2 linked regions of the Homo sapiens genome follow. The protein of the gene in region 1 interacts with the protein of each later gene in a biochemical or structural test. Each region holds a gene or a part of one and is shown on either strand. Other genes may lie near its edges.

Region 1 (2,891 bases):
TTGGGGCCACGGGAGGGTCTGCTCTATGGACTCAGCAGCAGCAGGAAAGGTGGGCGGCCTCATGTCAGGGAGGAGATGGACTGAAGCAACAGCAGTTTGGAGCAGGGCTAGCCCTGCAGCAGGACTTCCTGACACCATGGGGGTCTGGCCTGCCTGAGTCACCCTCCTCTTCCCCTAACAGGGCATCGTGAAGCGGGATGAGCTGGTGTTCCGGATGGTCCGTGGCCGCCGGGTGCCCATCCTTATGGTGACCTCAGGCGGGTACCAGAAGCGCACAGCCCGCATCATTGCTGACTCCATACTTAATCTGTTTGGCCTGGGGCTCATTGGGCCTGAGTCACCCAGCGTCTCCGCACAGAACTCAGACACACCGCTGCTTCCCCCTGCAGTGCCCTGACCCTTGCTGCCCTGCCTGTCACGTGGCCCTGCCTATCCGCCCCTTAGTGCTTTTTGTTTTCTAACCTCATGGGGTGGTGGAGGCAGCCTTCAGTGAGCATGGAGGGGCAGGGCCATCCCTGGCTGGGGCCTGGAGCTGGCCCTTCCTCTACTTTTCCCTGCTGGAAGCCAGAAGGGCTTGAGGCCTCTATGGGTGGGGGCAGAAGGCAGAGCCTGTGTCCCAGGGGGACCCACACGAAGTCACCAGCCCATAGGTCCAGGGAGGCAGGCAGTTAACTGAGAATTGGAGAGGACAGGCTAGGTCCCAGGCACAGCGAGGGCCCTGGGCTTGGGGTGTTCTGGTTTTGAGAACGGCAGACCCAGGTCGGAGTGAGGAAGCTTCCACCTCCATCCTGACTAGGCCTGCATCCTAACTGGGCCTCCCTCCCTCCCCTTGGTCATGGGATTTGCTGCCCTCTTTGCCCCAGAGCTGAAGAGCTATAGGCACTGGTGTGGATGGCCCAGGAGGTGCTGGAGCTAGGTCTCCAGGTGGGCCTGGTTCCCAGGCAGCAGGTGGGAACCCTGGGCCTGGATGTGAGGGGCGGTCAGGAAGGGGTACAGGTGGGTTCCCTCATCTGGAGTTCCCCCTCAATAAAGCAAGGTCTGGACCTGCCTTCCCAGGCCCTTCTGTGGGGGTGAAGGTGGGGAAGGCCTGCGGCGCCCAGATCACTGCCTTAGCAGTAGTCTTGCCTGTTCAGTGCAAGGGGCAGGTTTTGGGGGGAGGAATTCTTAGCGCAAGGACGGGCCTCAGCCCTGTCGCCTCCAGGGGGCCGCTGACCCAGGTGGGGAGAGGGCAGAAGAAGGGTGGGGGACGTGGGCAGGCCAGGCTCACAGGTGGAAATCAGGGATGCAGGGTGGTGCCCAAGCCAGGTCCTGCAGGAACCCAGGCCCAGGGAGGGACCCAGACACTGGTGAGGCGGGGCAGGGGTTCCTGGAGAGAGGGCAGCGAGGATCTCTATCCTGGCCTGGGGATTATGAACATAGGTAGCCGGGGCAGGGCCCTGGGTGGGACTGTGGCCTCCACTGGCCTCACCAAAGTGCCTGGGCCCCAATCCTTCTCCATGCCCAGGGGCCCCAGGTGGGCCAGACCTCTGGCCTGTTCCTCAGCCCTACTCATGGGGACATTCAGGGACCTCCAGGAAGTGGGCGGGGGAGCATCCACCCCTGCTAGCCGGCAGCTGTGGCCCTGATCAAATCAGGGGCTGGGGAGGGAAAGTGGGTCCATTGAGGTGGCCCTGCTCCATCAGCCCCCTACGGGACTTGTGTTCATTACAGTGAGGGGGTGCTCCCACTGTCTCCCGGCCTCCCTAATGCTCCCTCTGCTGCAGGGAGAAGGGTTCCAAGATCACAAAATGTCAACAATGCTGGCCTCCTGGACCAGACCCCGAGGCTCTAACAATGCACTCTGAGATCCCTACCCTTGCCGTTGGTCTCTGTCGCTGACTCGAGGCACCTAACATCCATTCACACCCAACACAGGCCAGCGACTTCTGGGGCTCAGCCACAGACATGGTTTGTCACTGTTGAGCTTCTGTTCCTAGAGAATCCTAGAGGCTTGATTGGCCCAGGCTGCTGTGTGTGCTGGAGGCAAAGAATCCCTACCTCCTAGGGGTGAAAGGAAATGAAAATGGAAAGTTCTTGTAGCGCAAGGCCTGACATGGGTAGCTGCTCAATAAATGCTAGTGTGTTATTTCATCTTCTGAGTCCTGTGGAGTTGGTAATGATTCCCATTTCACAGATGAGGAAACTGAGGCTTGGCAGGGGTGAGAAATTTGCCCCAGGCCACACCTCCCAGCAGATCTCAACAGTGGTAGAGCCAGGCTTGAATCCAGCTCTGCCAGATCCCAAAGTAAAAGTTCTCAGCTGCCTCACACTTGGCAGGGGGGTGGGGTGGGGGTGGGGGGTTACTCTGGACAGAGAAGGGTCTAGGATCCCAGGGTGATAAGGTCACTGGGCTGGGGTCTGGGACAGCCTGGGAATGGGTGGGCAGGCACAGCTGGGCTGTGATGGTGGCTCTGCTGCACAGTGGGAGGGGGCCCTGGCAGGGCAGTGGGTGGATGGGGTGTCTTCCAGGCCTGGGGTGCTTTTGGAGCGCTTATGGGGATGGGCTGCCCCGAGATGAGGCTGGGCTGGGGTGGGGTATCCAGGCAGGGGGAAAGGCAGAGCCTTGGCCGGGCAGAGTGACCAGAGCATCCCCAGTATCAGTGGCACAGCCTGGATGGGGGGCAGGGTGGCCCCTTGAGGTTCAGACAGGGTGTCAGGGAAAAGGACATGGGGTAGCAGGCAGGGGTCCCGATTGGCCCTGTGCTGGGTGGGAGGAGACTGATAAAGGCTGATGCTGACCAGGTGGTACTAAGGGCCAGGCCCTATCCAGACTCTAGCTGGGAACTGCATATGGAACTTCATGGCACTCTGAGGTGAGAACTGTTTCCATGCCTACTTCACAGATGTAGAAG
Region 2 (7,280 bases), about 35 Mb from region 1:
ATTACAGGGGTGAGCTACTGCACCTGGCCTTTTTTTTTTTTTTTTTTTGAGACAGGGTCTTGCTCTGTTTTCCAGGTCTCAGGCTGGTGTACAGTGGCACAATCAGGGTTCACTGTAGCTTCAACTTTCCGAGCTCAAGCGAACCTCCCACTCCAGCCTCCCCAAGTAGCTGGGACTACAGACACGTGCCACCACACCCAACTAATTTTTTTTTTAACTTTGGTAGAGTCAAGTCTCACTATGTTGCCCCAGGCTTGTTTTGAACTTGTGGCCTCAAGCCATCAGCCTGCCTCAGCCTCCCAAAGTATTGGAATCACAGGTGTGAGCCACTGTGCCTGGTCAGTAGTTGTATTTTTCAAGCCTCATATGATTTGACAAGGTAAAACGTTTAAAAACTATGCCAAGAAAATCTGGTACCTATTGTTTCTATGGTTGGAACTCACAGAAAGTTATCTGGGTCACCTCTATCTGAATAACCAAACAATCATGATATGAATCAGTTTTATTCACCCTCTTCTCAAATCCTATTTCCCTTGATGTTATTTGCAAATAGGAGAAAAAACAGTAAATACGCTATGAAAATATTAAGACTTGTACAAACATGACATTTTTGACAATCTAATAGACGTAACATCAATTCTGGCAAAAGTACAAGCCATGAATATTTGTTGCCTGACTTAAATAAAGACCCAGGTACTTTGTTTAGTGTTTTAATTTTAATGACAAAATGGTGTTTTTTGTATTATTTCTTGAGAGGTTTTTTTTTTCCCCATAGGTTTCTGTCTAGATTCTCCTGGGCCATTGGACAGTAAAGAAAAGTATGTATTCACTGCTTTCAAATGTTTATATGTAGAAAAAACGTGTCTAAACTTAAATACCTTATTTAAATGAAGTTCTTCATACACTGGACTGGAGCCCTGGATTTACCTGTGCCTAGAAACACTCTGGAATCTCAAGAATGAATAGTTTGTGTCAGCAATTTTCAGAACTTTTTCTCCTTTATTTTAGCTATAATTTTGGTGTTCTGTTTGGGTCTTACCCAAACCCTTACTCTGTGCTCTGACATCATAGCCTTACAAGAACATGTGGGGTTTTTTTGTTTGTTTGTTTGTTTGTTTCTGAGGCAGAGTCTCACTCTGCCGCCCAGGCTAGAGTGCAGTGGCTCACTGCAACCTCCACCTCCCAGGTTCAACTGATTCTCCTGCCTCAGCCTCCCGAGTAGCTGGGACTACAGGAGTGCACCACCACACCCGGTTAATTTTTGTATTTTTAGTAGACACGAGGTTTCATCGTGTTGGCCAGGCCAGGAGTTCGAGACTCCTGACCTCGTGATATACCCTCCTCGGCCTCCCATAGTGCCCATAGTGCTGGGATTACATGTGTGAGCCACCGCGCCCAGCCGAATGTGTGTATTTTAAGAAAAGACATGGGTTTGTTTTTTTTCACCTAGAAGTCTAGTGTTGGGGGTGCTCCTGAGAACAGGACAGCTTCAGAAATTTATTCTCCCATCTCTTGCCTAAAATGGGAGTCTGTGACTGTACCCCCAAGCTACAGGCTAAACACTATCTCTCTGCTAATATGAATACCTCTTTACTTGTTTTATTCTCATTATTTACCTTCTGATCTCATTACAGCCTTGAAAATCCTATGAGAAGAATACATTCCCTACCTGTAAGTTAGTTCCTTGTTTATTTTGAGCTAATACCTGTTATCTGTTCCTTAGCTACCAGCATGACCTTGATAGGAGACTTAATTTAGAGAGTAAAAACTGCTTTTCTTTAGTCTCTTTTGAGACAAGGTCTTGCTCTGTCACCCAGGCTGGAGTGCAGTGGCAAAATCTTGGCTCACTGCAACCTCTGCTTCCCTGGCTCAAGTGATCCTCCCACCTCAACTTCCAGAGGAGCTGGGACTATATATAGGTGCACACCATCACACCCGGCTGATTTTTGTATTTTTTGTAGACATGGGGGTCTCACTCTGTTGCCCAGGCTGGTTTCAAACTCCTGCCTCGGCCTCCCAAAGTGCTAGGATTATAGGCAAGAGCCACTATTCCCAGCCTTTCCTTAGTCTCATAAGTACTCAAGATGTTCGGTCTGGAGGAATTTGTCCTCCATCTCTAACAGAGCTTTATTAAACCAGGAAGGGTTCTTTTGATGCAAATGTTATTTGGGGATTGATTTGGCACTGTAATCCCTGTTGAGGGGGGCACTGTAGACCTTGTGAGGTTAGCTGTAAACCCATGGAATGGAAACTTCTATGCTGTGTCCTGGCTGTGTCCTGGCAAGGTGGATTCCTGGCCACATTTACTGGTTACCTACTGCAGTGTGTGAGGAGCTAGTCTACCCCCTATTCAACCCCCCTTTTTTTTCTTTTGAGAACTGAATTTTCCACTGAAATTTTATTTGTGTGCCTTAATTATTTTCCTTTTTTACTTTGATAGCAGAAGCTGTTGGGATGTAGTCCAGCTCTGAAGAGGAGCCATTCTGATTCTCTTGACCATGACATCTTTCAGCTCATCGACCCAGATGAGAACAAGGAAAATGTGAGTGTGACTTCAATGTACTAACCTGAGGCAGAGGTGAAACCCACAGGCTGTCAGTGGCTTAGAAGTGGCTGGGCTGCTTTCTGGGAGACTAAACTTGGCCATTATGTGCGGTCTTTGGAGTCAGAGAATTCTGGGTTTGGATCCTGCTTACTAGCTGTGTGATGTTGGCAAATTCTTCTCTTTTTAATCTTTGCTCTTTTGTAAAATAGGAGTAGTAATACCTTTTAGGGATGTTGTGGCAATAAGTAAGATTATGTATGAAGTATTGAAAATGGTGCCTGACAGGCGGGAGTTGCTCAGATTGTAGCTCACAGGAGTAATTACATGTACAAATAGTGTTTGTCTGGAAGGCTCTGCCCAGGCTGTCCTTGCCTCTTTGCTCTGACCCTGAAATGAATTGTAAGCTTAGGAAAAGGCTCTTTGGCAGTATTTGTAAGAACGGGGTCAACAAGTTCTAGGGAATCTCAGAGTAACTGAAATGGTGGCTTGGAAGGTGAATTTCTGGTTATCTACCCTGAATGAGCCTGGCTTTTTTGTTCTTTTAGACATTGCACAGAGTAGGCATCCAAAACAGTTGTAATTTTTTCAGCCTTCTCTCTACTGTATTTCTATATATTTACTTTCTCCCCTTTTCCATTCCTGCTGAAATGCCACAGTTCATAATCCTTGTCCTTACAATCTTCAGGTTTAGTGTGAAACCCACTGCCTCCATGAACTCTCCTGATGATTTCTTTATCAACCTGGGAAGTGTCATGAGAAAGAATATGGAAATGAGTTCCAGCCTTGAGTGCTTGGAACAGTGTATCAGCCTCTAGTGCTTTTTACCAGGGCAAAGCTGTACTGATGCCTGGTTTTCCCCCGAAATAGCTTCTCAGGGTTGCTTGCCTGGAGCTTTGTTTTAAAGGGAAAACAGCATAGATGGTGGTTAAAGAGCTCTCACTCTGGAGTTGTCCTGTTTTACTTCAATATTTTGGGCACATTCCTTAACCTGCAAGGTCTAGTTTTCTCACCTGTAAAATCGGGACAATCAGGTTGTATTTGATGGTTAAAAAGTTAATGCACAGAAAGTACTTAGTACTGTGTTGGCATAGAAATCACTGTAATATTAGCCATTACTGCTTTTTTTTTTTTTTTGATTCTTCATGGTTTTATTTCTCTCAGAACTTTAAAATGTGAACATTCTATAATTCAGCCAGTCTTTACTTCCAGGTAACTTCTTTATTGGGTCGCAATACCCTTTTAAATAACATGCTCTTGTTCCGGAAGGTAGTTAGCCGTTCATCACTCTTTCTGTCTAAATAACATCCAGTGACAAATCCCATAGGGACAAGAACATGAACCCAGTGGTCCCGCACAATCTGAAGTAAGTTCACCATGATAGCTGCAGCCTCAGTGCCGACCGCGACCCCGAGACCAAGGGCAACGGGGAACTCAGCCACCCACGCCAGTGCTAGCCATTACTGCTTTTAATACTTAATTATGAGTTCTTAAGTGAATATTTTAGGGCAAGGGACCTGTGAGTGTTTTCATTCCATAAAGTGGAATCATACGATATGTATTCTATCATATCTGGCTTTAAAAAACATTATGCTTGTAAGAATCGTCCACGTTGAGTAAACCAGTAGGGCTTTTTTTTTTTTCATTGCTTTTAGTATAGAATAGAATAATTATAAGTAGAAAAAATTATCTCCAGTTGGTAGGAAGAGGTGGAAAATATGAAGCCCTGAAACAGATGGACCTAGATGGAAAATTTTGACAACTATTCACAGGCAATTATATTAGATTTTATTTATTTTTGCTTTAGATTTCAGAAAGTTTGTGATTTAGCTTATTCATCGTGTTTTGTATATTTGGCAGATACTTGTGTTAGGAAATACAGTATGACAAGAAAAAGATGTTACTTTAGAAGTTAGCTGTTGACAGAGCCTTGGAAATTCTTAGTTACGCAGATCTATTGTTGGAATTAGGTGAAACTTTAATTTGGAGGCAGAAAGGTGATCAGTGCCCACTTTCTTGCCTCTTTCACCCAAGCTGAGGCCTGAGTTGGTTTTCATGGACAGTAGATGTCTCAACTATGTCTTGCAGGAAGCCTTTGAGTTTAAGAAGCCAGTAAGACCTGTATCTCGTGGCTGCCTGCACTCTCATGGACTCCAGGAGGGTAAAGATCTCTTCACACAGAGGCAGAACTCTGCCCCAGCTCGGATGGTATGTGCTCTGGCTTTCATAGGGGAATTCCTGACAGGAAGAAAGGATTAAAACACCTTCTTTCATCCAGAATTGAAGGCACTACAGTAGCACTAGCTGTTTTTACCTTGACTTTGTCTTTTGAAATTAGACTGTCAAGCATTCTTGGTGGTTTTGCTGTGTCTGGAGAACAGACAGGCGGTAGTAAGAGTGGGAGATGGTGTTTGAAATATTGGAGTTGTGCAAGGAATAATCGACCTTGTTAATCTGGGAAATCCTGGGTCATCCTAAATGTATGTATGGTGGGATTATATCTCTTCCTATTTTTTTCTTTTTTTCTTTTTTTTTTTTTAAGGGCTTTCTGGCAAAAACCGGAAAGCCTGCGAGACAAATTTTAAAAGAGCCGTAACACTAGATCTCTTACTTAAAACTTGGTCTTTACTATGCATTCTAAGTGCTTCTCAAGGAACTGGAGAGAGAGCACTTGACTTCTTCCAAAGGTGGTTTGTTAAGAACAGTTATGGGCCAGGTGCCATGGCTCATGCCTATAATCTCAGCACTTTGGAAAACTGAGACAGGAGGATCGCTTGAGTCCTGGGCAGCATAGTGAGACCACATCTCTATTTTTTTTATTTTTAATTTTTTTAAAGAACTATTATGGATTACAGTGAATGCTCAGGCTGCTGGGCAGTTTTGGGGTCACTCGTTTCAGGGCTATGTATTTGCCAGACAGGGACTGTCATTACTTCCAAAGTTTCCTGCTGTTGGTCTGAATTGGATTAACTGATAGCATCTATAGATTGGAGAGGCCCAACTTGAGCAAGATGACCACATTTGGCTTCCAGGTTTACCTAGGATCTTAAATCTGAAAATATACCTTTCCAATCTGCTTTGTGTTCTGAGGTTCAGCCAGTATTGTTACTCTGTCTATCATTTGCACAAAGCACTTTTATATGTTCTTGTCTTGTGAAGTGGAGTTAATCCACTTGAACAGATTAGGAAAGTACCACTAGAGAGGTTTGGATGATTTACCAAAGGATATACATAAGTAGGAAACCAGGATTTAATGATCTCTGGCTGGGTGTGGTGGCTCATGGCTGTAATCCCAGCACTTTGGGAGGCCGAGGTGGGAGGATCACATGAGGTCAGGAGTTCAAGACAGCCTGGGTAACATAGTGAGACCCTATCTGTACAAAGTTAAAAAATAAGCTGAGTGTGGTGGCTTGTTCCTATAGTCCCAATTAGTCGGGAGGCTGAAGTGGGAGGATTGCTTGAGCCCAAGAATTCGAGGCTGCAGTGAGCTATGATCAGACCACTGTACTCCAGCCTGGACAATGAATCCCTGTCTCAATAAACAATCTCTAAATTCCCAAGTACACAGTAATGCTTTAAGAGTTGGGTATCAGAAACAATATATTTGGTGTGTGCTTAGCGACTAGAGCCTGTATCACATCTGCACCTAGGAATCCCAGAACATACCTCACAAATGTTGGTGTGATATAGTGTGAGCTTTCGTGATAAAGGTACTGCCCCATAATAAAGTTATCTACCCCTAGGCTAAAAAAATTTGCCATTTCCCAGAGTGTGCACTTGGGGAGGACTAGAGACTGCTCAGAACTTGTTTTATATTGTGAAGCAAAGCTAATGCCAGAACCAGAATAGGCCAGCTGCAGAGAGGATTCCTTGGTGCATGATCCACTCAGAAAATCAGAGGGCCACTTAACTAACAACAGATTCATACCCCAAAGAGATTTGGATTTTAAGGATTACTTGTAGGTCATAACATTGGGACTACCCTGCTACTGTGAAAAAAATAACTCTAAACTTTTTTTTCTGGATTTGAAAGTGCCTAGAAAATAAATAATTCAGTATTAGCAGTGTTTGTATTGGTAGGATTTATCTTCAGGTGTGGATTTATGAGCAGTTTTTCTAAATTTTCTATATTCCATGTTTAGAGGTTTCCCAAAAAAAGTATGACTATAGGTTGGCTAATGAGGTACCGCCATTTTAATTCCAGGAATGGTTTTCTCCTAGGGAGATAGTGTGGTGAGAAGAGTTTGGATTTTGGAGTCAAACAGATGAGGTGTATAATCTTGGTAACCTCTTAAGCACCAGTTTCCTGATTTGCTAAAGAAAAAGGAAAGGATTAGCTACCTTTAGTGTATTGTGAGGCTTCTATTGGATTATATGTATAAAGATTATATCGTAGTATCTGGCACACAGTAATTCCTCGTTTAAAAACTGAGCATTTAAATCCCAAGTCTAAAGAACGAGGATAGATTTTATAGAAGGAAGTTACCCTTTATTCCCCCCTGTCAGAACTGGAGTTATATATAAGTGCATTCTCTAGGCCATTTTATGGTCTTTATAGAGATTTGCATCTGCTTGCCCTAACTCATTTCAGCAGATTCTCATACTGTCACAGTCCTCAATGCTGATCGGTGTTCACTGATGCAACCTTCTAATAAAAGAAACCTTGTTCTTCACAAGAGGCTATCTCTAGTACCCATTATAAGGTGAATTGCTTCTGGCAAGAGTTCTCTGTAAAGGC

Evidence for each region.
Region 2: of the proteins of HDAC11 (region 1) and CDC25A, one has a biochemical effect on the other in vitro, tested with the Homo sapiens proteins (one study listed by BioGRID).

The regions. Positions count from the first base shown.
Region 1 is NC_000003.12:13,504,287-13,507,177, forward strand, and holds the end of HDAC11 (histone deacetylase 11), read left to right. Parts: intron 1-181; coding exon 182-397; 3' UTR 398-2,130; downstream 2,131-2,891. UniProt on the Homo sapiens protein: Responsible for the deacetylation of lysine residues on the N-terminal part of the core histones (H2A, H2B, H3 and H4).
Region 2 is NC_000003.12:48,178,191-48,185,470, reverse strand, and holds part of CDC25A (M-phase inducer phosphatase 1), read left to right. Parts: intron 1-775; coding exon 776-818; intron 819-1,634; coding exon 1,635-1,671; intron 1,672-2,440; coding exon 2,441-2,542; intron 2,543-3,674; exon of another isoform or gene 3,675-3,994; intron 3,995-4,630; coding exon 4,631-4,750; intron 4,751-7,280. UniProt on the Homo sapiens protein: Tyrosine protein phosphatase which functions as a dosage-dependent inducer of mitotic progression. Directly dephosphorylates CDK1 and stimulates its kinase activity. Also dephosphorylates CDK2 in complex with cyclin-E, in vitro.